Linked DNA regions of Homo sapiens. The protein of the gene in region 6 purifies or fractionates together with the protein of the main gene of each other region. This does not show direct contact. Each region holds a gene or a part of one and is shown on either strand. Other genes may lie near its edges.

Evidence for each region.
Region 1: the proteins of GRAMD4 (region 6) and CSDE1 purify together in Homo sapiens (affinity purification with mass spectrometry, with the first as the bait; one study listed by BioGRID). This does not show direct contact.
Region 2: the proteins of GRAMD4 (region 6) and NAT10 purify together in Homo sapiens (affinity purification with mass spectrometry, with the first as the bait; one study listed by BioGRID). This does not show direct contact.
Region 3: the proteins of GRAMD4 (region 6) and EIF2S3 purify together in Homo sapiens (affinity purification with mass spectrometry, with the first as the bait; one study listed by BioGRID). This does not show direct contact.
Region 4: the proteins of GRAMD4 (region 6) and MAP3K7 purify together in Homo sapiens (affinity purification with western blotting; one study listed by BioGRID). This does not show direct contact.
Region 5: the proteins of GRAMD4 (region 6) and SDHA purify together in Homo sapiens (affinity purification with mass spectrometry, with the first as the bait; one study listed by BioGRID). This does not show direct contact.
Region 7: the proteins of GRAMD4 (region 6) and ACIN1 purify together in Homo sapiens (affinity purification with mass spectrometry, with the first as the bait; one study listed by BioGRID). This does not show direct contact.

The regions. Positions count from the first base shown.
Region 1 is NC_000001.11:114,737,485-114,740,984, forward strand, and holds part of CSDE1 (cold shock domain-containing protein E1), read right to left. Parts: intron 2,407-3,500; coding exon 2,208-2,406; intron 589-2,207; coding exon 479-588; intron 80-478; coding exon 1-79. UniProt on the Homo sapiens protein: RNA-binding protein involved in translationally coupled mRNA turnover.
Region 2 is NC_000011.10:34,136,629-34,140,128, reverse strand, and holds part of NAT10 (RNA cytidine acetyltransferase), read right to left. Parts: intron 3,488-3,500; coding exon 3,354-3,487; intron 3,152-3,353; coding exon 3,103-3,151; intron 939-3,102; coding exon 842-938; intron 745-841; coding exon 634-744; intron 1-633. UniProt on the Homo sapiens protein: RNA cytidine acetyltransferase that catalyzes the formation of N(4)-acetylcytidine (ac4C) modification on mRNAs, 18S rRNA and tRNAs.
Region 3 is NC_000023.11:24,064,956-24,068,455, reverse strand, and holds part of EIF2S3 (eukaryotic translation initiation factor 2 subunit 3), read right to left. Parts: intron 2,459-3,500; coding exon 2,364-2,458; intron 493-2,363; coding exon 348-492; intron 1-347. UniProt on the Homo sapiens protein: Member of the eIF2 complex that functions in the early steps of protein synthesis by forming a ternary complex with GTP and initiator tRNA.
Region 4 is NC_000006.12:90,552,573-90,556,072, forward strand, and holds part of MAP3K7 (mitogen-activated protein kinase kinase kinase 7), read right to left. Parts: intron 1,015-3,500; coding exon 886-1,014; intron 1-885. UniProt on the Homo sapiens protein: Serine/threonine kinase which acts as an essential component of the MAP kinase signal transduction pathway. Plays an important role in the cascades of cellular responses evoked by changes in the environment.
Region 5 is NC_000005.10:249,320-252,819, forward strand, and holds part of SDHA (succinate dehydrogenase [ubiquinone] flavoprotein subunit, mitochondrial), read left to right. Parts: intron 1-1,672; coding exon 1,673-1,784; intron 1,785-2,018; coding exon 2,019-2,149; intron 2,150-3,500. UniProt on the Homo sapiens protein: Flavoprotein (FP) subunit of succinate dehydrogenase (SDH) that is involved in complex II of the mitochondrial electron transport chain and is responsible for transferring electrons from succinate to ubiquinone (coenzyme Q).
Region 6 is NC_000022.11:46,672,386-46,675,885, reverse strand, and holds part of GRAMD4 (GRAM domain-containing protein 4), read right to left. Parts: intron 3,044-3,500; coding exon 2,889-3,043; intron 2,511-2,888; coding exon of another isoform or gene 2,388-2,510; exon of another isoform or gene 2,240-2,387; intron 2,217-2,239; coding exon 2,072-2,216; intron 1,230-2,071; coding exon 1,136-1,229; intron 419-1,135; coding exon 334-418; intron 1-333. UniProt on the Homo sapiens protein: Plays a role as a mediator of E2F1-induced apoptosis in the absence of p53/TP53. Plays a role as a mediator of E2F1-induced apoptosis in the absence of p53/TP53. Inhibits TLR9 response to nucelic acids and regulates TLR9-mediated innate immune response.
Region 7 is NC_000014.9:23,064,137-23,067,636, forward strand, and holds part of ACIN1 (apoptotic chromatin condensation inducer in the nucleus), read right to left. Parts: exon of another isoform or gene 3,224-3,500; intron 1,873-3,223; coding exon 1,830-1,872; intron 353-1,829; coding exon 219-352; intron 122-218; coding exon 1-121.

The DNA.
Region 1 (3,500 bases), on a different chromosome or scaffold from region 6:
AGCATACACTCCCTGTTGGACTCTGACCCGGGGCAGCTGGAGATTTACTCTCTAAGTTGTGAGGAACAGCGCACACAACCTACCAGTCAAAAAAAAAAAAATTTCCATTGCTAATCATTTCAGGAGCAGCACTGTGCAATATAAACTGAATTTTAATATCCTCTATACTATATACAGGGATGCATTTTAATATGATCCACAAGAGGATGTCATGCTGCCAAGTTTCAAACTTACAGTATGTAAATTGACTGTAAGCATTGACTCAGGGTTATATGTAAAAACCCAATTGAGTCTTGACCATATTTTTATTTCAGGTCAAGAAATGCCAGTGCTTTTGATTAATTTTAAAATAGTAATCTTTATATACTATAGCTCTCTTTCGTGCAAACTGAGGAGATGGGGAGAATCTTCCTTTTCTAATGTGAAAGATATGCAAATGCAGGGCCCTAAAAAAACACAAAGCATCAAAGTCACTAACTTGTCCATTCATTCGTTCTTCAGGGAGGATTTCTTGTTTTATCTTCACCAGTTTAACAGCAATGGGTTTCCCAGTCCGTCGGTCCGATGATACTTCAAATTCAACATCATCTAAAAATAAATAATGTGTTATGTTTGTTGAACTGATTTTTGCGAAACGATATATTGCTTCCAAGCTATACTTAACATAGCATTTGAATTGCCTTAGACCAGTGGTTTTCAAAGTGTGGTCCCTGGACCAGCAGCATTAACATCACCTGGGAGCTTAAAAGAAATACTGGGCCTAACTCTAGTCCTAGCCAAAGACAAACTCTGGGGATCAAGTATAGCAATCTGTGTTTTAACAAGCCTTCCACTAATTCTGATACACACAAATGTTTCAGAACCACCATCTTATGCTAAGATAGCCATGTCTTAATCTTAGTTTTTATGGCATTTACACATACTACAAATGAGATGACTTAACAATCATAACCTTTGGCGAGTTTTTTTTTTAAACTCCTCTGTACCTCAGTTTTCTCTTATGTAAAAGGAGAATAATTCCTAACAGGACTGCCATGAGGATTAACCAAAACAATGTTCCTATAGCATGCATCTTGTTAGCTATTATACTGACTCTTTTCTCAAACGTTTTTTAAAAATGCACAGAGGCCTCATAATTTCAGTCCTTTAGTAAGCCAAACACTTCACATGTAAAAACTTTTTTTTTTTTTTTTTTTTTTTTTTTTTGAGACAGAGTCTCCCTGTCACCCAAGCTGGAGTGCAGCGGCACGATCTCAGCTCACTGCAACCTCTACCTTGCGGGCTCAAGCGATCCTCCCACCTCAGTCTACTTAGTAGCTGGGACTACAGGCACATGTCACGTTCCTCAGCTAATTTTTGCATTTTTTGTAGAGATGGGGTTTTGCCATGTTGCCCAGGCTGCAAGCTGGTCTTGAATTCCTGAGCTCAAGCAATCCACTTGCCCTGGCCTCCCAAAATGCTGGGAATACAGGCATGAGCCACCATGCCAGGCCTGTGAAATAATTTGTATGGTGTCAGCCACAATGAATTTCCATATAATCTAAGAGGTGACTTTTTTTTTTTTTGAGACGGGGTCTCGCTCTGTCGCCCAGGCTGGAGTGCAGTGGTGGCATCTTGGCTTACTGCAAGCTCCGCCTCCCAGGTTCACACCATTCTCCTGCTTCAGCCTCCCGAGTAGCTGGGACTACAGGTGCCTGCCACCACGCCCAGCTAATTTTTTGTATTTTTAGTAGAGACGGGGTTTCACCGTGTTAGCCAGGATGGTCTCTATCTCCTGACCTCGTGATCTGCCCGCCTCGGCCTCCCAAAGTGCTGGGATTACAGGCGTAAGCCACCGCGCCCAGCTTCTAAGAGGTGACACTCTAAGGATTACTTTTTTCAGGTACTACCCAAAATAGTACCTGACAGAATAATCATAAGTAACATTACAAAAGTTCAATATTCGTACTGGCTTAAAATCTTACGGGTAAACAGTCATCATTATGGGGAAAAACAATGAAATCTTCCAAGCATTTATTGTAAATATATGCAAATATAATCTTTCAAGGATTCTGCTGGTTTATACAGATATTCTTCACTAAACAGTACAACTAAAAGTCCAAAATGTTTTAATTTACATAAAACTTTTTGAAAAACACTCATGAACAAATTGATATGCAAGACAAATTTTGTGATTACATTTTTACAAAGGAGAACTGACAGATTACCTCCTACTTTTAAGTCTTGCAGGTTGCCATTATACTGTGAACAGTGGAAGAAAAGTCTAGCTTGACGTTCTGAACACTGAATAAATCCGTAAGAGGTTAACAGTTTTTCAATAACCCCAGTTTCACGCAGTGCTGCTGAAGTACCATTAGGGTACCCATTATGTCCATTGTTGTGGAGAAGGTTTGGATCAAAGCTCATCTGTTTTAAAAAGAAAAAGAATATATACATATCTGTACATTATCTCCATAGCATATTAAGTCTGGTTAATAAGTCACTAAATCTTCCATATAAAAACGCAAAAAAAAGTAAAATGAAGGGAAGATTATAGACTTTATTACTGCAGCATTAATTTAGCTAATAAAACATTTCAGAGGAAACAACTTATTATATTGGGGAATTGCCCCAAATTATGGTAGAATTTCCACTTATCAGACAAAAATAGAATTTCTGGGGTTTAATATTAAGGTATAGCAACTACATTAGCAAATGCTGCCTTTACATGAAGTGAAAATTACTAAAACAACAATTTCAGAACAAAGGTAATTAATATTAAGAGACAGCGACCACAAACTACCAAAGACTCTTAAGAGATTTGGTAACGCTATTTTGAAACTTCAGCCAATACCTTAATACTGTTTAGTAAGTCATGCATTTGGAAGGCATATTTCAAGTTAGTAGAGATTAACACAATAAAATGAACTTTCTATGCAATACTTAAACTAGAAAATTTCAGAGTAATTCATGCTTAGGTCCTTTAATGAAAGACTATCCAAAATAGTGCAGTAGAAAACTTCTGAAACAACAAAACTCCAAGACAGCAAAAGCATTTCCATTTTAAAAATGCTGAATCATTTCACAGGTACATTTAAAGAAATCTTTACCTAAAAGAAACCCTTCACTTTTTACATACTGATGAAATCTGTAACTATCACTTCGTTCCCATTCTTTAGTGAAATAGGAGCTATTTAAAAGCAATATAATGGAATCTGCCTAGGTCATAAAATACTATCACATTGGATGTTCCATTTCCCTTCTTTGAGTAAAACAACAAAAACTATAAGTGAAGCACAAAACAGGACGAAATCCTTAGCAAAGCCTAGGTCTATAATTTACCACAGTAATGACATTTCTAAATCATTACAATTATGTTTTAGACCCTTTCACTGAAAATCTGATTTATAAGTATTTCCATTTAAGTGGAATGTTGGGCATTATTAATAAAAAGGATATATTTTCACTAGGAAAAAAGAGTAACAAATTCTAGAAAGATAAACCAAAGTTTGAGTCAACGA
Region 2 (3,500 bases), on a different chromosome or scaffold from region 6:
GGTTAGGGGAACACAACTACACTCTTTCCCTGCTTTGTCACTTCATTTGGTGTCACAGAAAGTGTGTAAGCTCTGCCCAGCTCAAGATATACGGATTTCTCCATCAAAATATAATTGGCAAAAAAGTATATACACACACATATACACATATATGCATGCTATACCTAAATATTTATATATAAAATATGCAATAAAACTAATCTCTTACACATTTTTTGTTTTTTAAGTATTCAAACAATCTGTATGCACAAAGCACTTCTGTGTGCTGTTGGCTACAGAAGGCTAGCAGCATATTCTTATTACAATTTCATGAATCAGGAAACTAAACCTCAGAGATGGAGCACCTCACTCCCCTAGAGCACAGATGTAAATCGGCCTCCATAACCAACCAGCTACATGAACTAAATGGACACCTCTGACATTAAATTGCACAGCCAGAGTCTTACCATGAAAATGAAAGACAGCACAGCCTGGGACAGAGCAGGGGCCTGGCAAGCGGGTGGTGACCAGCGAGTGACTGCAGGCTAGAACCAGTCCCTCAATTTCCAGCCCAAACCCTTCCTAGGACACCACACCCACCTCCCACACAGCCAAGCCATTCCCAACCCTCCTCCCTGTCCCCACCCGGCTCACCAGGCTGGGCTGGCTTCCCCATGTTCCTGTTCTGAATGATGTTCAGAGCCAGGGAAGGAGAGAAGGTACTGAACTGGTAGGAGAGCAAGGCTAGGAACCGCCGTCGGAAATCTGTGGGGTGCCATCACGCAGAGTTAGAGGTCTGGAGGCATCCCCGGCAGCCCCCAATCACCTCATTGTCTCCCCCAAACCCCTACTCCTCAGTCACCTTTCCAGAAGGCTGCAAGCCAGCCTCCCTGGTCAGCCTCATCCTCATCAGTGAGCGTCTTCAGCATGATGCACGAGTGCTCTCCGGTCAGGTCATTCTGGGCAACACAGAGGTTTAACTGGCACCAAGAACCCCCTTTTTTTGAATAACCCATCATTGATGAAGGGTAAACACTCAGAGAAGAAAGGCTTAGTGCTTCCGCAGGCCTCTCCTTCTTTCCAGGCTGGGGGTAGGCGCCCTTCTCAAACAGCCCTCGCCTTCACCTTCCTCATATCACCTCAGTTCACACACAACAGCTGCAAAGATCACTGTCCTGCAATCTCCTCAAAAGTGTCACAGACACAGAGAAGAGCTGCTGGCTCTTCTGGGCCTGCCTCTTGCTCGGGACGTGCGGGAGGGAAATATGTGCTCCTCTCAGGTAGATGCTGAACTCAGTCATTAGGGCTTAAGCGCCACACAATCCAGTCAACATGGGTTTGATGCCTCACAGCAGGAACTCCAGGGCCAAAACCTACACCTCAGTGCTGGCAGCCAGTCTGCAAGTGCAGGCTTCTTTAGGTGTTAAAATTGTGACTATTTTTACATTTTTTACTCCATAACAACAAAGCCCCACACCATAAAAACACCACCAAGTCACAAATGAACAGTGCACAGTGCAAGACCACACGGACACACCGCAGACCACACCACAGCTCACTAGCTTGCGTTCTCCTTGCAGCTGACAGCCAAACTTACATCCTCAGCCTCCACCAAATGTACTGACAGAGACTCAACCCATCTCTGCAGCTCCCTGCCTGCACGGAAGCAGCCCAACACCCAGCAGTCCTCACCAGTCCCACTTTAAACCCTCGGACGGACACTGGACACTAGCCTCTGATACTGACTTTGCCCTCTCCAAAATCAAACCTCCAACACTTCCCTCTCAGCCGATGGACTCCCCTCATCTGGGAAGACAGAAGCACTCAGAAGACAATGTCTTCATCCTCCCAACCCCAGATCAGCCAGCCAACTGATGCCTTCCATTCCCACGCTCTCTGCCTTCCCTGTTCCGAAGGATGAAGTAGGTGGTCACCTCTCTTCCTGAATCTCGAGTCCCACCCACCACCTCCTCAAGGCCTGCACTCTGGCAGTCAGCCCCCCTCACCCATACCACTAATTGCAGGATCGAACCCAGCAGCAAAAAACATTCTCTAGAATCTCCCATCGGACAATCCTTCTTTAGCGCCCATCTCCCTCCAGCGACCTTGTTTCTCTGCTCCCTTTCGCTTCCTGAAAGAGTCGCCTGTTCCCCTTCTAGTTCTTCACCTCCTCTTCCCTCTGGCCAGGCCAAAGCCTCCACTCCACTGCAGCTGCTTCAATGCAGCTCACCGCTGCTGACAAATCCAATGGCCAGCTGTCCTCATCCTCCTCATCCTCTCAACAGGGCTGACTCCCATTCCCACTTTTTCACCTTGACGTGTGACACCACACCCGACTTTCTCTTGCGCATCAGGGCTGTTCCTTCTCAGTCTTGTATGTGCTGTGTCCTCCTCTTCATTCCTCTAAACGTTAGGGTCCAAGGAGTCACTCTCACATCCTTTCATTGGCTCCAGATATTTTTCATTCACTCAACAAAAGTATTTACTGAACACAAACTACACAGCAATTGCTACTCTAAGTGCGAGGAATACAGCAATGAACACAACAGACAAGAGCTCCGTGCCCTCCTGCAGTGCATTCTATTATGAATATGCTGATGGCTCCCAAAGCTCCATCTCTAGCCCCAAACTTCCCTACCTCCAAATTCCTGTAGTCAAATGAATGCCTAGTCCACATTTCCACTTGGATGTCCAATAGGCATCTCATATTAACATCAAAAAAGAACTCCCACTCTTCCCTCCAAATCTGCTCCTCCTGCAGTGAGTCCCATCTCCGACAGCACCTCCAACACCCAGTTTCTCAAGCCAAAACTCTAGGAATTACCCTTGATCCTCCTGTCCACTCTCCTTTCCCAGAATCTGATGAACAAGTCCACGTGTACCTCTGCCATTTTATGACTAAGCTCAACGCATGCACCGTGTAGTCGGAGAAGAAATGTGTGATGATGTGGCCTGTCACTGAGGATGGCTGTTTCCATGTCCATCAGAATAAACCTCTTCAGAGGCACAGCCACCTGCTCAGAGCGATGCAGCAGGGAGGCACTAGGGCTCTTTGCAAGGACAGGCCTGTCACCTACCATAACGGTAAACCTAAACTTCTCCTCTGCTGGATGCCTCACTCACCGGGGTCTGTCTCAGATAAACAGGAACAAATCCAGCTCGTTTCCAGAACCTGCAAAGATACAAAGACAGTAGGTCACTGTGTGTGGCCTCTGGGGAGTGGCTGATAGACACACAAGGGCAAGAGCCAGGAAGAGCACGCCACAAATAGCAGGCTAGCACCGATACCAGCTACCAACAGAGACACACAGCCCACAGAACTCTTCTTTCTCAATGCCAAGGAGTGATGCCGTGGAAGGAGGGCAGGCACTTACTTGAGGAGCCTGGGGGTCAAGCCATAGGAAACACCCAGGTAATCCAGGCGTTCGGCAGGCCTCTCATTCAATTTGAGGAGTAAAGGAGGCAGGTCCTTCCGGGGAGTGATGACCTCTTCCAACAAGCTGACAGCCTGGGAAGATGCC
Region 3 (3,500 bases), on a different chromosome or scaffold from region 6:
AAAAAAAGGCAACCATTATCTAGCACAAAAATCATGTTAACAAAAACATAAGTGTAGGTAAATATCTTACATGATAAGTCATCAAATTTATTTTTTTATATTGCTAAAAAGGAGTTACTCTATATTTGATCAAAATGTATCCTTTGTGTTTAAAAATAATTTTTACAAACCCATGAAACCATCTTATAACCTAAAACAAGAGCTTAACCACATGATTGTTCCCCACCCTACTCTATTATTAAAATACCCAATTAAAAATCTGTAATATGTCCCTTTTGGTAATCCATCCCCCATGAAAAGTACCACAAATAGCCACAAATTAAAAGAGATGAGAAAAAAATCCTTACCAATAAGACCGCCTGGAGCAGCATATTGCAGATCATTATGCTCCGCAAAAAGTGATACAATTTTGGAAAAGATTGGTTTACACATGAGTTTTCCTTCACTATCTTTGGAAACAATACCAGGTCTTACTTCTATCTCCTGGCCCACCTGTAAACATATAATTAGTAATTAGAATTACTGTGTTACGCAAAATTATCATTTACCTATCAAAAGTTCCAACAGGGACTGGGTGCGGTGGCTCACATGTGTAATCCTAGCATTTTGGGAGGCCGAGGCGGGTGGATCACCTGAGGTCAGGAGTTCGAGACCAGCCCAGCCAACATAGTGAAACCCCGTCTCTACTAAAAACACAAAAATTAGCCAGGTGTGGTGGCACGCACCTGTAATCCCTGCTACTCAGGAGGCTGCGGCAGAATTGCTAGAACCTGGGAGGCAGAGGTTGCAGTGAACCGAGATCGCACCACTGCACTCCAGCCTGGGTGACAAAGAGAGACTCTGTCTCAAAAATAAAATAAAATAAAATAATAATAAAGGTCCAACCGGAAGACCATAAAACTGAAAAGGCAATCATTCCTGTATTTCAAAGATCATTATTCTTAAAAAAAAAAAAAAAAAAAGATGTGAACGAGACTGTCAAAACCAGAACCATCCAACTGTTGTTAACTACCCACCACACAAGTCTATTACCACATCAAATGTGCTCCATACTTACAAGTCTATAAATTTTCAAGTCAGACACATTCAAAAGACATAACAGAAAACAAAGAAATATAGCTGGGCGTGGTGGCTTATGCCTGTAATCCCAGCACTTTGGGAGGCTGAGGCAGGCAGATCACCTGAGGTCAGGAGTTAAGAGACCAGCCTGGCCAATATGGCAAAACCCCATCTCTACCAAAAAAATTAGCTGGGCGAGGTTGCGAGTGCCTGTAGCCCCAGCAAGTCGGGAGGCTGTGGCAGGAGAATCATCACCTGAACCCAGGAGGTGGAGGTTGCAGTGAGTCAAGATCATGCCACTGTGCTCAAAAAACAAAACAAAAAAAAAACTATTATCAGAGCATGTAAATTAGTATAGCTACCATGGAGAACAGTATGGAGGTTCCTTGAAAACCTGAAAATACAGCTACCATATGATCCATCAGTTTCACTAGTGGGTATACATTCACCAGAAAGGGAAGCAATATTATCAAAGAGGTATCTGCACTCCCATGTTTATTGTAGCACAGTTCACAATAGCCAAACATGGAATCAACCTAAGTGCCCATGAACAGATGAATGGATAAAGAAAATGCAGTATATAGGCCGGGCAAAGTGGCTCACGCCTATAATCCCAACACTTTGGGAGGCCGAGGCGGGTGGATCACTTGAGGTAAGGAGTTCAAGACCAGCCTGGCCAACATGGTGAAACCCTGTCTTTACTACAAATACAAAAATTAGCTGGGCATGGTGGGGGGTGCTTGTAATCCCAGCTACTTGGGAGGCTGGGGCAGGGAGAATCGCTTGAACCCAGGAGGTGAAGGTTGCAGTGAGCTGAGATCGCTCCAGCTTGGGCGAAACAGCAAGACTCCGCCTCAAGAAAAAAAAAAAAAAGAAAAGAAAAGCAATGGCAGCATATATATATATGCAATGAAGTATTATGCAGCCATAAAAAAAAATTCTGCCATTTGCAGCAGCACATCTAGAATTGGAGGCCATTTTGTTAAGTAAAATAAGCCAGGCACAAAAAGACAAATATCACACATTCTCACTCATCTGTATATGTGGAAGCTAAAAAGGTGGATCTCATGAAGGTAGATTGTGGATTCAGAGGTCTAGAAGGGTGGGAGGAGTGAAGTTTGAAGAGAGAAAAAAAGAATATTAAAAAAGAGAACTCTACATCAAATACCAGAAACCATGGAAAAAATTTTATTTTTCAATTTGGATTGTCCATACTTTTTTTCCTGATTAAGACAAGGATAAAACAAACAAACAAACAACAAAAAAAAAAAACCCAAAATCACAACAACCAAAACCCATTTTACCTTTAATACTCCTTTTAGGATACTACCACCAGCTACACCTCCCTTAAGGTCATCAACTTCACAGCCAGGTTTGTTGACATCAAAAGATCTAATAACTAAAATAAAACAAATTAAAGTCAGTTCTGTTAATCTTAACTTTAGAAGAAATATTATTTTCCATGTTAATGTTTCTAAAATAGTGGCCATTTGAGATTTATACCAAAGGGGTGCCTTTTTAACAAAATCTATTATTATTCCAATGATTAAGCAGTCTTACTTATGATGGAAAAAATGAAAGTAACTTAAGTTTATTAATAAGTGGCATATAGGGTATACCAGTATTATAGAGCATCACGCAGCTATTAACAATGTTAGAGCTATATGTAATGATCTGGAAGGATGACCCTCACATACTGTTAAGAAAAGTTATAAAAATTACACGCATAATATAATCCCACTTCCATAAAGAAAAATAAAATAATCAATGTCTGTATATGGATTTTTTTTTCCCTCTATCATAGAGGCTGGAGTGCAGTGGCACAATCATAGCTCACTGCAGCCTCAAATTCCTGGGCTCAATCTTCCTGCCTCAGCCTACCGAGTAGCTCGGACTACAGGTACACACCACTGCACCCAGCTGTAATATTTTATTTTTTGTAGAAATGGGGTCTTCCCTTAATGCCCAGGATGGTCCTGAACTCCTAGCCTCAAGCAATCCTCTCACCTCAGCGTCAGCCTCCCAAAGTGCTGGGATTACAGGTGAAAGCCACCATGCCCAGCCTGTGTATATGTTTATACACGATGATATGAACAAAGAGAAAAGTGTGGGAATAATGGACACCAAATGTTAACTTTGCTGACTTTAGGGCTAAGGAACTAGAACTTGAAGACAGAGAGATTATGGACATTTTCTTTATAGACCTCTGTAACTCCTGTAAGAACAATTCAGCTTTATAACTATAAAACACTAGGACTACATGACCTGCACTTCGGAGACTATTTCCTACTAAACACCAGAAGCTCGGATGAAAGCCAGAGGAGCTCAAATGTCTGTTTCGAGAAGGCTACTACATCCCCGTGTAGGAACCACAAGCCTAGGTGATCAAATTATACCAGTATCAGTTCTTCGTTAATTGAACAACAAAATCATCTGTAAAT
Region 4 (3,500 bases), on a different chromosome or scaffold from region 6:
TTAGACTTGTGGAATAATGTAAAAAATGGCCATTAGTCACATGATTATAAACAAGGCATAGAAATGAAATAACTAAGAGTGGCGCTAAAATTAAGAAGGTAAGTAATTTTCCTTCATGAAAAGCTATTTTCCCAAGCAAATGTAAAGTAACTTTACTAATGAAGAGGATGCATTCTAACATCATATGTGGTTAAAAACAACATTACCAGAACTATAAAAGAAACAGGACAGATGCAAGGACATTGAGTCCATAAGTCAATATGACTTAAGATATGAGCATTCAAGTCAGAAGCATCTGGATTTGAATCCCAGCTCTACCACTTACTAATCTTGTGACCTTAAGCAAGTTATTTAACCTCTCTAGGCCTCAGTTTCCTAATCTGTAAAATGAGGCAACAGTACTCACCTTCTAAGGGTGGGTGAGAATATAAACAGGAAAAATATGTGAAGCATTATTATTCTTTGCTTCTTCTCCTTGATGAGGCCCTTGCTTCTTCAGGAGAAAAGGGCTATAACTCTCCAGTTATATTAACCATGTCAGAGATTTTATGTATGTATTTTTTTATTTTTTCCATGATCCAGCCTGATGCTTCTCCCTAAGAGAGAGCCAACTGTCTAGGTTGCGTACTGATGGCCTTTCCCTAATCAGCGGAGCCAGTGAACATCCTCAGCCGCATGTGTAGACCAGGACTACTCTCAATCCTGCTCTGCTGGACTCTGGGGCAGGGACAGGGCAGAGTCTGATAATAGCAAAGCAGTCTCTTAACAAAGAATTGTACATTTTAATGTTAGAGATAAATGATATTCTTTAGGGAAGGGGACAGGAGTAGTCTTCCAAGTAGAAAACACAAAAAGTACTTTTAAGAAAAATTTCTTTTTACGAACCATTATGAACAGCCCACATGATTCGGAAAGCTGGGCCACCAATCTCATCAAAGGGTTTCCGACGCGTTATCACTTCCCAAAGAATAATACCCCAGCTGAAGACGTCACATTTTTCACTGTAATTACTACCTAGAAAAAAAAAAGGTAGTATATAACCTAAAGACTATTTTTCCACATGACTTACAGAAACAATGGCTTAAATTTTGAGAATGGGTATCAGGGATAAAAATGAGGCTGTCACATGTAGAACTAAGAAACTACTCTTTCTGAAGTACTTTGTCTTTTCAACAAGTACATTTTTAAATGAATTAAGTATCAACAATACACTAAAAAACTACTTCAGAAACTCAGTTATTTTCTATCTTTTTTCATCAAGAGGCAGTTTTTTCATCAAGAGGCACAGGACTTGACTTTTATGTATTTAGACTGATACTTTCTCTGGGGCAGAGTATGAAACATCTGTACATTCCTTTATGTTGTTTATTATTATTTTATTCTGAGACAGGATCTCACACTCTCATCCAGGCTGGAGCTCAGTGTAGCCTCAAACTCTTGGGCTCAAGTGATCCTCCTGAGTAGCTGGGGCTACAGGCATGCGCTGGCACAACTGGTTAATTTTTTAAATTTTTTGTAGAGATGGGGTCTTGCCATGTTGCCCAGGCTGGTCTCAAACTCCTGGGCTCAACTGATCCTCCTGCTCTGGCCTCCCGAGGCGCTGGGATCACAGGCATGAGCCATTGTGCCTGGCCTCCTTTCTGTTACATTTTAATCTTAAATTTTCTTCCCACTCTGACAGACAGCACTACTCTGCTATCAAAGCAGAAGAACTTTCTAATTTAGTGTTACAGTTTTTTCCTCAATATATGGTGAAGGGAAATTCTTAATTTATAAACTTAAACATTACGTTGTAAGTAACGAAAATTATGGATAACCTGAGTTACACAGCAAAATTTACAAACTAAGTAGGTGGTTGAATCAGCCAGCACAATAAGCACCCGTCATAATCTCCCAAAAACAAACAAACACTCAACTCACTGTAAGAATGAACAATTATTATAGCTATAGCTTTACATGCTAAGCAGTACACTGTAATATAGCACTACAACCATGCTACAGTCTAATTTGGGCTACAGGTTGACTGACATCTTTCAGAAATGAAGAAACTTACACAGCCTAACAGTCTGCATTTTGTTGCTCTAGACAATTAAGGGTTGTCTAGAGCAATAAAATTAATCTTTTGTATAAACAAATCTTTTTGCTCTCCACATACAGTAACATTGGGTCATTTTAACTCACATAAAGGTATATTAAATAAGTAAATAATTTTAAAACAATGTCAAATGTATACATTCTGTATATGAAACAGGAGGCATTATTTAATCTTGTGTAATATAACACCTGATTATTCATTTATTACTAAATTGAATTTTAGGGCAAAAGAGCTCCACTCAGGTGACTAGTTGCATTGCAATTTCTCTTCCTCTGGGGTGGCTAAAAACAAACAGAAAACCCTTTAAAGTCATCAAAACTGAAAGAAATAAGCTATAACCAGAGTCTGATTAACTGAATGTATCTGAATTTTATGGGCATTTACACTTCCTAACATACAAATCACATACCTTCAGTTCAACTTCTTTCATTTAAAAGATAATTTGATGTTTTTATACAGAAACCTAGCATATAATTTACAGACAACTCTTTTAAAACTTCAGTGACATATGGAGGTATAAAAGAAGGTAAACATATAAGCTTGACATTTATTTGTAATTCTTAGTATCTTATTTCTGTCCAATTACTTGCATTCTTTTTTTTTTTTGAGATGGAGTCTTGCTCTGTCACCCAGGCTGGAGTGCAGTGGCACGATCTCGGCTCACTGCATGCTCCGCCTCCCGGGTTCACACCATTCTCCTGCCTCAGCCTCCCGAGTAGCTGGGACTACGGGCGCCCGCCACCACGCCCGGCGAATTTTTTGTAGTTTTAGTAGAGATGGGGTTTCACCGTGTTATACAGGATGGTCTCGATCTCCTGACCTCATGATCCGCCCACCTCAGCCTCCCAAAGTGCTGAGATTACAGGCCTGAGCCACCGCGCCCAGCTATTTGCATTCTTTTTAAGGCATCCTCATTTAAACTTTAGGGCTCTCAATTTTTAATTGCTAGGAAACCAATACAAAAGCACAGTTAATTCTCATTATTCCTGGTATTTATGTTCTATAAAGTTTCTGAGAACACTGAATTAGTGAACACTGAATCACTGCTCCTAAGGAAAATACAGGGGTAGGTTCCTGTGTGCCTCTGGTCACCATGTTTTTGTCAACTGATCAATATATAGCCTTGTTTCATGCGTATTTCTGCTTAAAGACACCTTATTCATATATACTGTTGATTTATTACCATTGAACTCATAGTCAACATTTCTGTAACTCATGCCTGAATGAAGATAATTTAACATATGTATATTGTCTGTTAAGATACATCATAGCCTTCTTGTACTTAGGCAGTACTATGCTTGAGGGCCATTTTAAGTAGCAAAATTACCAACAAAAATCACAAAAATGAAAAAGGGCTCTGAACAGCACAAAAAAGGACACCTGCTTACAGCATGAGAGCTGAAAC
Region 5 (3,500 bases), on a different chromosome or scaffold from region 6:
GGACACGTTGGGAACAGGCCCCCCAATGTGGCCATAAACTGTCCCCAAAACTGGCCATAAACAAAATCTCTGCAGCACTCTGACATGCTCTTGATGGCCATGATGCCCACGCTGGAAGGTTGTCGGTTTACTGGAATGAGGGCAAGGGACACCTGGCCCACCCAGGGTGGAAAACCGTTTAAGGCATTCTTAAACCACAAACAATAGCATGAGCGATCTGTGCCTTAAGGACATTTTCCTGCTGCAGATAACTAGCCAGAGCCCATCCTTTTGTTTCCCGTAAGGAATACTTTTAGTAAATCTTATCACTGGCTTGCTGTCAATAAATATGTGGGTAAATCTCTGTTCAAGGCTCTCAGCTCTGAAGGCTGTAAGACCCCTGATTTCCCACTTCACATGCTGTATTTCTGTGTGTGTGTCTTTAATTCCTCCAGCACCGCTGGGTTAGGGTCTCCACAACCGAGCTGGTCTCAGCAGTAAATATTGAAAAGGAATAGATACAATTGTCATTATTTACAGATAGAATTTCCAAACAATTCCCAGGGAATAAACTGAAAAACTAACAGAAACAAAACAAGAATGTAGTAAGGTGTCTGGATAAGAGATTTGTATCTAAAAATCAGTAGCTTTACAATGTGCCAGCAGTAGTCTGCTCAGACATCAGTAAATATCTCATTCACATTTCAAAAAAAATTGAAAATGCCCTGAAATAATGTAACCAGAAATACGAAAAAAAGGATATGAAAACATGTGGCTGCTAATGGACATGAAAGAATGTAATACTAGATTCTGAGATGCAATGTTTTTCATTTGTTCTTCCTGAAAAACCATTAGGTTGATGTGCATTACAGTGTTACGATTATGTATGAGTCTAAGGAAAATCAGATGAAATGTCCAAATTAAACCATGAAGGTGCATTGGTAGAGGAAGAGAAAATTAGGGTCAGTGGAGCAAAGCACAGTTAGAGGGAGAAGCAAGGAGGAGGAGGGATCACTGAGGTGGTGCCTGTCCCACAGGAAGCAAAAGCTGACGCCTAGTTCCCAGCATACCTACAGTAAACTTCAGGTCCACTGCATAGCACGTCTCTCATCACAGTAAAACTATGAAGGAACTCAGTGTACAAGGAGCTTCTACAAGATAGGCAGAAGACAGTAGCCAGATGGGCCAAGGGCCCCAGCCACCCACGCCCCTCCCTCTCCTTGAAGACGTGCAGCTCCAACACCACCATCACCAGGGCTCTGCTCAGCTCCTCCTAGTGTGTATCACCACAGGGCTGCTGGCTTGTGTCACGTTCACCACCAGACCCCGCGTCAGGAGTCCCGCCAGGGGTGTGGAGAGGCAGCGCTGCCTGGTTGGCCGTGGAGCTGTATGGAACATGGTGCCTCACAGGCAGTCTGCTTGGAGTCCTGGACCCTGGCTGTATCCTGCTGGAAAGGATGTGTGTGGGTCTAAGATGTGTATGTAATAGAAACATTTATTTATTCAGAAGCTTTAGTCAAAACTTCATTTTTAAGTTTGGAGTAATAAACTCATAGTCTGAATTTCCTAATTTTTCTGTTTAATTTATGTAACTTTTAAGTGAAATGCAAAACAACAGGTCTAAAAGTTAAGCAGTTCTTGGTATGGCTGCTTCTATGGATTAAAAGTTTACAAATAATATTTTGTGCCACAGTCAATGCAAAATCATGCTGCCGTGTTCCGTGTGGGAAGCGTGTTGCAAGAAGGTTGTGGGAAAATCAGCAAGCTCTATGGAGACCTAAAGCACCTGAAGACGTTCGACCGGGGTGAGCAGACAGTGGGCTCTGTGCACACTGTTGGGCCCTTCCTTCTGCAGGGTGGGCTGGTGTCTGTCCCGTCAGTGCTGACTTAGTTCCGTGCTTGCTGTCTGGATGGGTCCTGGCCCACAGCTATAAAGCCACAACCAGTGACTCCATGGACTAGCAGGCCCAGGCTGACAGCTCGGAGGGCCCATGTGACTGGGTCCCGCCTGCCCCTGATGGAACTTTTTGTGTCCCCAGGAATGGTCTGGAACACGGACCTGGTGGAGACCCTGGAGCTGCAGAACCTGATGCTGTGTGCGCTGCAGACCATCTACGGAGCAGAGGCACGGAAGGAGTCACGGGGCGCGCATGCCAGGGAAGACTACAAGGTGGGCCTTCTCACCACGCCCACCTGCACCTGCCTTTTCCTGCCACCTGGTGGGACTCAGCCCCACCCCTGCATTTTCTCTGCATTTTCTTTCGTTGCCCCAAAAGTAAATCCAAAAAATGCCTTTTTCCCCCCTGGTAACTTTGATCCCTGGGTTCTCGCCATCTTCTGGATCACTGTGACCTTTTCCTTGCTTTGGGTCGGCATCCACTGATGCCAGCAGTGGCATCTCCAAGCCAATGTGCTTTGCTGTTAGAAGGCCAAGGTTAGAAGTGCAGCTAGAGTGGCAAGACCAGGAAATAAATGCCAGTTTATTAAATAACGAGTAAGCCATCATTTCAAGCCTGCCCTGTGGAGGAAATGCCAGTTTATTAAATAACGAGTAAGCCACCGTTTCAAACCTGCCCTGTGGAGGAAATGCCAGTTTATTAAATAACGAGTAAGCCACCGTTTCAAACCTGCCCTGTGGAGGAAATGCCAGTTTATTAAATAACGAGTAAGCCACCGTTTCAAGCCTGCCCTGTGGAGGAAATGCCAGTTTATTAAATAACGAGTAAGCCACCGTTTCAGACCTGCCCTGTGGTGGAAATGCCAGTTTATTAAATAACGAGTAAGCCACTGTTTCAAACCTGCCCTGTGGAGGAAATGCCAGTTTATTAACGAGTAAGTCACTGTTTCAAACCTGTCCTGTGGAGGAAATGCCAGTTTATTAACGAATAAGCCACCGTTTCAAACCTGCCCTGTGAAGGAAATGCCAGTTTATTAAATAAGGAGTAAGCCACCGTTTCAAGCCTGCCCTGTGGAGGAAATGCCCGTTTATTAAATAACGAGTAAGCCACCGTTTCAAGCCTGCCCTGTGGAGGAAATGCCCGTTTATTAAATAAGGAGTAAGCCACCATTTCAAGCCTGCCCTGTGGAGGAAATGCCAGTTTATTAAATAACGAGTAAGCCACCGTTTCAAGCCTGCCCTGTGGAGGAAATGCCAGTTTATTAAATAACGAGTAAGCCACCATTTCAAACCTGCCCTGTGGAGGAAATGCCAGTTTATTAACGAGTAAGTCACCGTTTCAAACCTGCCCTGTGGAGGAAATGCCAGTTTAGTAACGAGTAAGTCACCGTTTTAAGCCTGTCCTGTGGAGGAAATGCCAGTTTATTAACGAGTAAGCCACCGTTTCAAACCTGCCCTGTGGAGGAAGTGCCAGTTTATTAAATAATGAGTAAGTCACCGTTTCAAGCCTGCCCTGTGGAGGAAATGCCAGTTTATTAAATAACGAGTAAGTCACCGTTTCATACCTGCCCTGTGGAGGAAATGCCAGTTTATTAACGAGTAAGCCACCGTTTCAGACCTGCCC
Region 6 (3,500 bases):
GGGCTCAGGGCCCCTGTGCTTTTCTTTATGGGGAGGGTCCCAGATACGAGGGGAACACAGCAGCCAGAGTGGGGCTTGGGTCCTGACCTCCTGGGCTCCAACCCAGCCCCTCCACTTTGAGACACACGGTCCAGGCAAGTGGACCCCAGGGCAGGGGCAGACCCACAGGGACATGGGGACTCAAGTCAAGGAAACGGACCATGGCCGGCCAGCGTGGCCGCGGCGCCCAGATGCTGACAGAGGCTGGCAGAAGTCTATAGGGAAAGCCTCGCCAGCCTCTGTCAGGTGACGAAGAAAACACGGGGGTTAGTGGGGGTGGGTAGGTGCACCAACCTTCTGGATGTCCGTGATGTCCACTAGCTTGATGACTTTGTTCCTCTTTGAGGACCCAGATTTGGAGCTTTCGAAGCACAAGTAACTGGAAGGGGAACGGACAGAGGCGTCGCCTGGCTCTTGAACCAGAGCACGCTCCCACCAGGTGGGGGTCTCCCGGGGCTGCCTCTCAGCCCCCAGTGGGATGGACAGTGGTGCTCCCTTCCCAGCAGACACAGAACCGGTGAAACACTCACGGCCACTGCTCTATATGAGACACTCACGGCCACTGCTCTGTGTGAAACACTCACAGCCACTGCTCTGAGACACTCACGGCCACTGCTCTGAGTGAGACACGGCCACTGCTCTGAGACACTCACGGCCACTGCTCTGAGTGAGACACTCACGGCCACTGCTCTGCATAAGACATTCACAGCCACTGCTCTGAGTGAGACACTCACGGCCACTGCTCTGCATGAGGCACTCAGGGCAACAAGGACTCAGGGCCTCAGCAATAGCAGGTCCCCACACGGTCCCCTCCTTGGGAGACTCTGCCCCTCGTCTCCATGAACTGCTTGGGCCCCAGAGAAGACAGCATCCCCGCCAGCCTGAGGGATGGCAGCAGTACAGCCCAGGCCACGTCCGGCTTGGAGACAACACCTTTTCCCTGGGAGCCCAGACAGCCGGCAAGAGCAGAGCATGGGAGAGGCCATGGCCACCACTCAGGAAAACCTGCACTGGGCCAGCCACGCCATCCCAGGGCCTAGGCAGCCTCCTGCGCCCCCTCCCCTGCAGCCACACAGGGCCCCACGGCTGCACTCACTTCTCCGTGACGTAGAGCACCCCGTTCCTGATGTAGTCCGTGGGCATCTTCCGGTCCCTGTTGATGAGGCAGCAGCGCCAGCCATTCTCGCACACTAATGGGAGAAGGCCCGCCTGTCACACTTTCCACTGGAAGTACCCAGCCTCTGACCTGACGCTGGGACCCAGGAGCCTGACTCTCAGATCCTGACATCCGCCCACCGCGCTCACGTCACACCCACAGTGAGAGGAAGGCGCGCCGGCAAGAGTGAGGTGGCCCCAGAGGGTGGAAAACAGATGTTTCCTCTTCAACAGGCACTGGCAGGGTTTTTAAAGTAAAAGCACCCAGGCAGAGCAGGGAGCAACAGAAGTCACAGTGTGGCCGGGACACCACCTCCAAGACCGGCAGGGTCAGGGCGCTGGGACACCACCTCCACCAAGACCGGCAGGGCCAGGGCTCAGCAGAGGACGAAGCTCCGTTCTCCGCAGCTGCCTCTGCAGCCGCTCATCACACACCTCGAGCTGCCCGGTTTAGTTTAACAGGCCCTCCCTTTGGGAAAGCTGACCTGTCCCCAGGATCCTGAGTCACCTGTCCCCTGGTGGCTCTTGTTTCTCCAGACACGATGGAACCAGGGGCAGACCCCCTGCCAGCGCCCTGCAGGCCCTGAGGCCTCGCCCTGGACTCTCTCCCCAGTGTGTTGCCTGCACGCCTGCTGTCAGGGGAGTGCTGCAGCGTGGGCGGCTCTCCCCACGGGCACGCCCTCCTCCCCTGTAGCCCGCAGAGTCCTCATGACCCCTGGCTCCTGCACTCCTCCTGGGGCAGTGGGATGTGAATGCCATCCTGAGGGCTCCTCTGGCCTGTCACAGGGCGACCCCGTCCTGCATCCACAGCGCCCCCCTCACGGGCCTTCAGTCTGTGTCGGCGCTCGGCCTGGCCTCAGACTCACGGCACACATACCCGCCAGCGGACGCTCGTTTTCTGTCAGATTGAAGATCTCGTGGAAATTGCCCTTCTTGGTGCTGTGGAAGCGACCGGCGTCCTCCTCTTTACCCAGGCCGGCCGGTGCGCTGGGTACGTAGCTCCGTGACGAGGTCGTCTGCAGCTGCCAACGGCAAACAGCGTCGAGGTCAGGCCCGCTGCCCACGCCTGCAGCACCCAGATGTGCTGGCCGCACACACACCTCCCCAAAAGCTGGGATCCAAATTTGGGAAGACGTTCCCGAGGTCCCTTCCGGCCCAGAGCGGCTCCTTCTTCCAGGCAGGGCCACCTCACCTCAGTGGGGAGAGCCCAGCAACCCTCCTGACTCATCTGAGCCACCCCGAAGGGAGCACCGAGGCCTGCTCATTCCCCGTGGTCCTGGCTGGGATGCTGTGCTGCACATCTGGAGGGCCTGTGACTGTGAATGAAATATGGCCCAGTGCCAGGCTGTGGCTCCAAGGGGGCCCTTCTCAAACTGCCTGGTCTCAGCGCCAGAGCCTCACTGTCAGGGATGGCAGGGGCCGGGCACCCCCATGGAGTGGTCACTCCCAGGCCTGCTGGCTCTCAGTCATCATGGCCAGTCCCCAGGTGTTGCCCTGGGCTTGGGAGGGGCTGGATGAGCCTCAGAAACCGCAGTGGTAACAGGGAAAAAAAAAACCCTCAAGTTTAAGGAGTCTATAAAATTGAAGAAACAGCCTCTAAATGAGCCGGAGGTGAACAGAGCACTGTGGGCCTGGGGATGCCCGGCTTCGTGGCCCCCCATCCCCCCATCCCCGCAGCTGGGGGCCGGGCTCACCCTGCGTGAGACTGCGGCGCTGGAGCGCTCCTTGAGCTGCGGGTCGGTGGGGAGACTCCTCCAGATGATATAGGGCGTGTCGTACTTGGCGCGCAGCCTCGGGCAGCGTTTAAAGATGAAATCAATGAGGAAGAACTTGATACCAGCATAGAGTCCTGAGGGCAGGGGACACAGCCTGCTCCATCTAGAGCTCTGCAGCTATGCCAGTCTACTCAGGGTGATGGTTCCGGCACCTCCCACCTCCCAGATTGGCACCCTCCACCCTGAGCCTGGATGTGAGAGTCCAGCTGCTCGCTCAGTCCTCACCCTGGATACCCCCAGCCTCGCTCCCCTGGGGCCCATTCGTGCTGCACAGTCTCAACCCCAGGCGAGGGCCCCACTGCCAGCGCCCCACCCACTCCCACTAAGACCCCTCAGCTCTGCTAGGACCCCCCCATCCAATGCCCCTCACTTCTCTCTCCAACTCCGCCTGGCTCAGGGCTGTTCTTGACCCACCTGAAACACTTCAGGACTGTGCCTCCTCTGCCCCAATTCCCCACACCTGACACCAAATCTGAGGTCCCTCCATGGCAATCCCTCCCCAAACCCCCTCCCACCTGCCCTTCTTCAACT
Region 7 (3,500 bases), on a different chromosome or scaffold from region 6:
TGTCATGGGTCCCATCATCGCCATTACGCTCTGTCTCATCCTCAGAGATGCGAGAGTCATCAGCATGAAGATCCACAACAGCCTCCTGCCCCGCCAGGGGTTTGATGTCGGGGATGAGGCTCTGGGACACAGATACCCCCCACCCCGTTACACTGGGCCCATGTCTACTCCCACCTTAACAGGTCTCATCCTCCCTTCCCTGGCTCCTCCCACCTCACCTTTAGTGATTCAGTGGTGATACTGATGGAAGGTTTCTTCTGTGTGGTGGCTGTGCTGGCTCCCCAGCGTCGTTTCCGACCAGGCTGGCCCCCCTCTGTGTCACTGTTTCCAGCTGGCACCCCCTTGGTAGCTGCTGTCCCCAAGAAATAGACCCAACAGTTAGATGGTCTCAGGACCTCTGCTAGTTCAAACCGTAATACCTACAGGTTACCTCTGGCTGGAGTTTTGGTAAAAGGTTAACTTAAAGAAATCATATTTGGAGGCTGAGTGTGGTGGCTCACACCTGTAATCCCAGCACTTTGGGAGGCCAAGGCGGGTGGATCACGAGGTCAGGAGTTTGAGACTAGCCTGACCAACATGGTGAAACCCCATCTCTACTAAAAATACAAAAATTAGCCAGGCGTTGTGGTGCATGCCTGTAATCCCAGCTACTCAGGGTGCTGAAGCAGAATTGCTTGAACCCGGGAGGCGGAGGCTGCAGTGAGCCAAGATGGTGCCACTGACTGCACTCCAGCCTGGTGACAGAGCAAGACTCCGTCTCAAAAAAAAAAAAAGAAAAGAAATCATATTTGGGAACTGGGGAAACCATGGCTTCAGACTGAACACTGATCTAAAAGCAGTAAGGGAGGGGTAGCTAGTTTGATGAGCCGTTTAAACTTTTAATGGTAGACAGTAATATCAAGTAGTGTGGAAGAAAAACTGAGAAGGACATGTAAATGCAGAAGAAACAAGAACACTATGTGATACTAACATCTAGGCAGAACTAAGATCATGATGGGATCTGGTCTTCCTTTAATTTTCACACTACAGATTGATATTTAAGTTATAAACATCTATTATACTTTTGTAATCTAGAGTTCCTCATTGGGGAAAATGTTAAAATTGTTACTGTTTGAGGTGTGGGGCACTTTCATTTCCTTGGGTGCTCTCTTAGAATAACGCATAAACAAGGTCAGGCACGATGGCTCACGCCTGTAATCCCAACACTTTGGGAGGCCAAGGCAGGCGGATCACAAGGTCAGGAGTTCAAGACCAGCCTGTCCAACATGGGGAAACCCCATCTCTACTAAAAATACAAAAATTAGCTGGGCATGGTGGCGCATGCCTCTAATCCCAGCTACTCAGGAGGCGGAGGAGGATTGCTTGAACTGGGACCCGGAGGCGGAGGTTGCAGTGAGCCAAAATCGCACCACTGCACTCCAGCCTAGGGTACTACAGAGGGAGACTCCGTCTCAAAAAAACAACAACAAAATACCCAGAATAATTCATAAACTGCTAAGCATCACATAGGAGTCCCTGAAACTCATTCCTTGTTGAGTATTCAGGTATCTGAAAGAATAAATGCCTCTAAGGCTAAATGGGACATGGTCTCAGACACCTCACACTGTATCTCATTAAAATGTGACTGGAGCAATATGATGGGGATTGTCTCAAGTTTTGAATTCCAAAATGAAACCCTACATAGGAAAGGATTCAGATTTGCTAGGCACAAGGGGTGGGGCAGGAGGGAGTGACCCAAGAATGCCATTGAGAATGAAATTCTGGTTCTCAATGAATGCTGGTTTTTATGGTATTCCTGACTTTTATCAGGGATTTGGGGCTGGACTTACAGACAACGGAGATCTTCCTCTTGAATGATTTGGGCAGCGAGCTCTGTATGAAGAAGAAAAAGGGGAAAAAAAAGAGAAAGAGAGACACCCCACAGAGAGGGGGGAAGGAGGTTAGATGGGGCAGTCTTAGCTTAGCCTCCAAAGACACAGATAGAGTGAGAGAGAGAGACAGAGAGAGACACAGAGACAGACAGAGACCAAAACAGAAGCGGCAAACGGCAAAAACGAAGCAGAATCAATGCAAGTTAGAGAAAAAAATAAAACTAAACATCAGAGCAGGGAAAAGTCATCTACTCCGTATCACACCTGTGTATTAGCTTAACCAGAAATAAGCTGGAAGAGGAGTTCAGTAGCCTCTCAGCCCCCTAAAGATGTTGGTCATACCCCCTCTTTCACCGTCTGAGTCGAGAGGACACCAAGCCAAACAAACTGTGCCCCAAACTGGGTCATCTAGTCCTCCCAGGTCCTTCCTTGCTAACTCGAGGAAACAAGGAAAACCAACTTTGGATGGCAACTTCAACAAGGTAACCCTCCTTTCTTCAATGGCCAGACTGATGCCCACTGACAATGGCTTTGAGATGCTTGGACAGCAGACTGTCATGTCAAGACTGCCCAGACCCCCACCACACTGTGGAAAAGGGCAGCACCAGACCCACTGGAGATGAGGCTCTTGAGCCAAGTGCTAGCAAAAAGAACTCAAAGGTGTCTTTGATAAAGGAAGGTTTTTATGAAGGGCAGATTGTCCCCAAGGAGATCCTTAGACTTTCCAGCCACCGCAGGGAGCTCCAGCAGAGTCTTACTGTTTCCTCTCCAACCAGGGCTCAAGCCTTAGGGGCTCTGCCAAAGACCAGAAGACATCTTTGGGACAAGTCTCTACCCCAAACACTCAGTGGGTGAATGACGAAAGACTATGGGGGGCGGGGGAGAAAAGTGAGAGAGAAAAAGGGAATAGAGTATTTTCAAGTGTAGGTGCTTATTTCTGGAAAAACTAAGACCACTCTACCACTCTTCTAAAGGGTAGGGCAGAAACCTCGTGATGAAATCCCTTTCCCATCCACCCCCACCCGCAGCCCCGTTTGTGTCGTCTAACCAAGTCTCCTTGGTCTCTGTTAAGGGCCAGCCTGACCCCTAGCTGGGCCGCTCTCGATGGGTAAGTTAGTGAGAAAAACAAAACAAAAAAAAAGGTCTTAATTAAAACAGGAAAAACATGAACCAAATAAATAAATAAAAGAAATCAGAAAAAATAAAGATATAGAAAAAAATAAAATAAAATATTAAAAAAAGAAGAAGAAAATAAAGAAGAAAATAAACTAGGAATATGACAAATGTTCCAGGTACCATCTCACACCTGGGATCTTCAGTTCAGCCAATCGCACCTCACTGTGTACTGTATCTAGTCAACCGCCGGTCCAATCAGAATGAGCCCTCCCTGCTAGGCGCTGTGCAATTGGTGGGGGGTTGGGTTGGCAAAAAAGGTGGGCGCACGGCGTGGTAGTCAGCACGGCACTGCCAGAGTCCTCCCAGGGGCGCAGGGGGGGCGGGAGGGAAACGTGTGGGGGGACGCTGCCCAGTTTCCATGATGTCAAGACAGTTCACTGGCGGTGGCCAGGCTCAGCGAGGGATAGAGGGGGGAAAGGGGCAGAGACATCAGTCCTGGCCCTGAAGGGACAT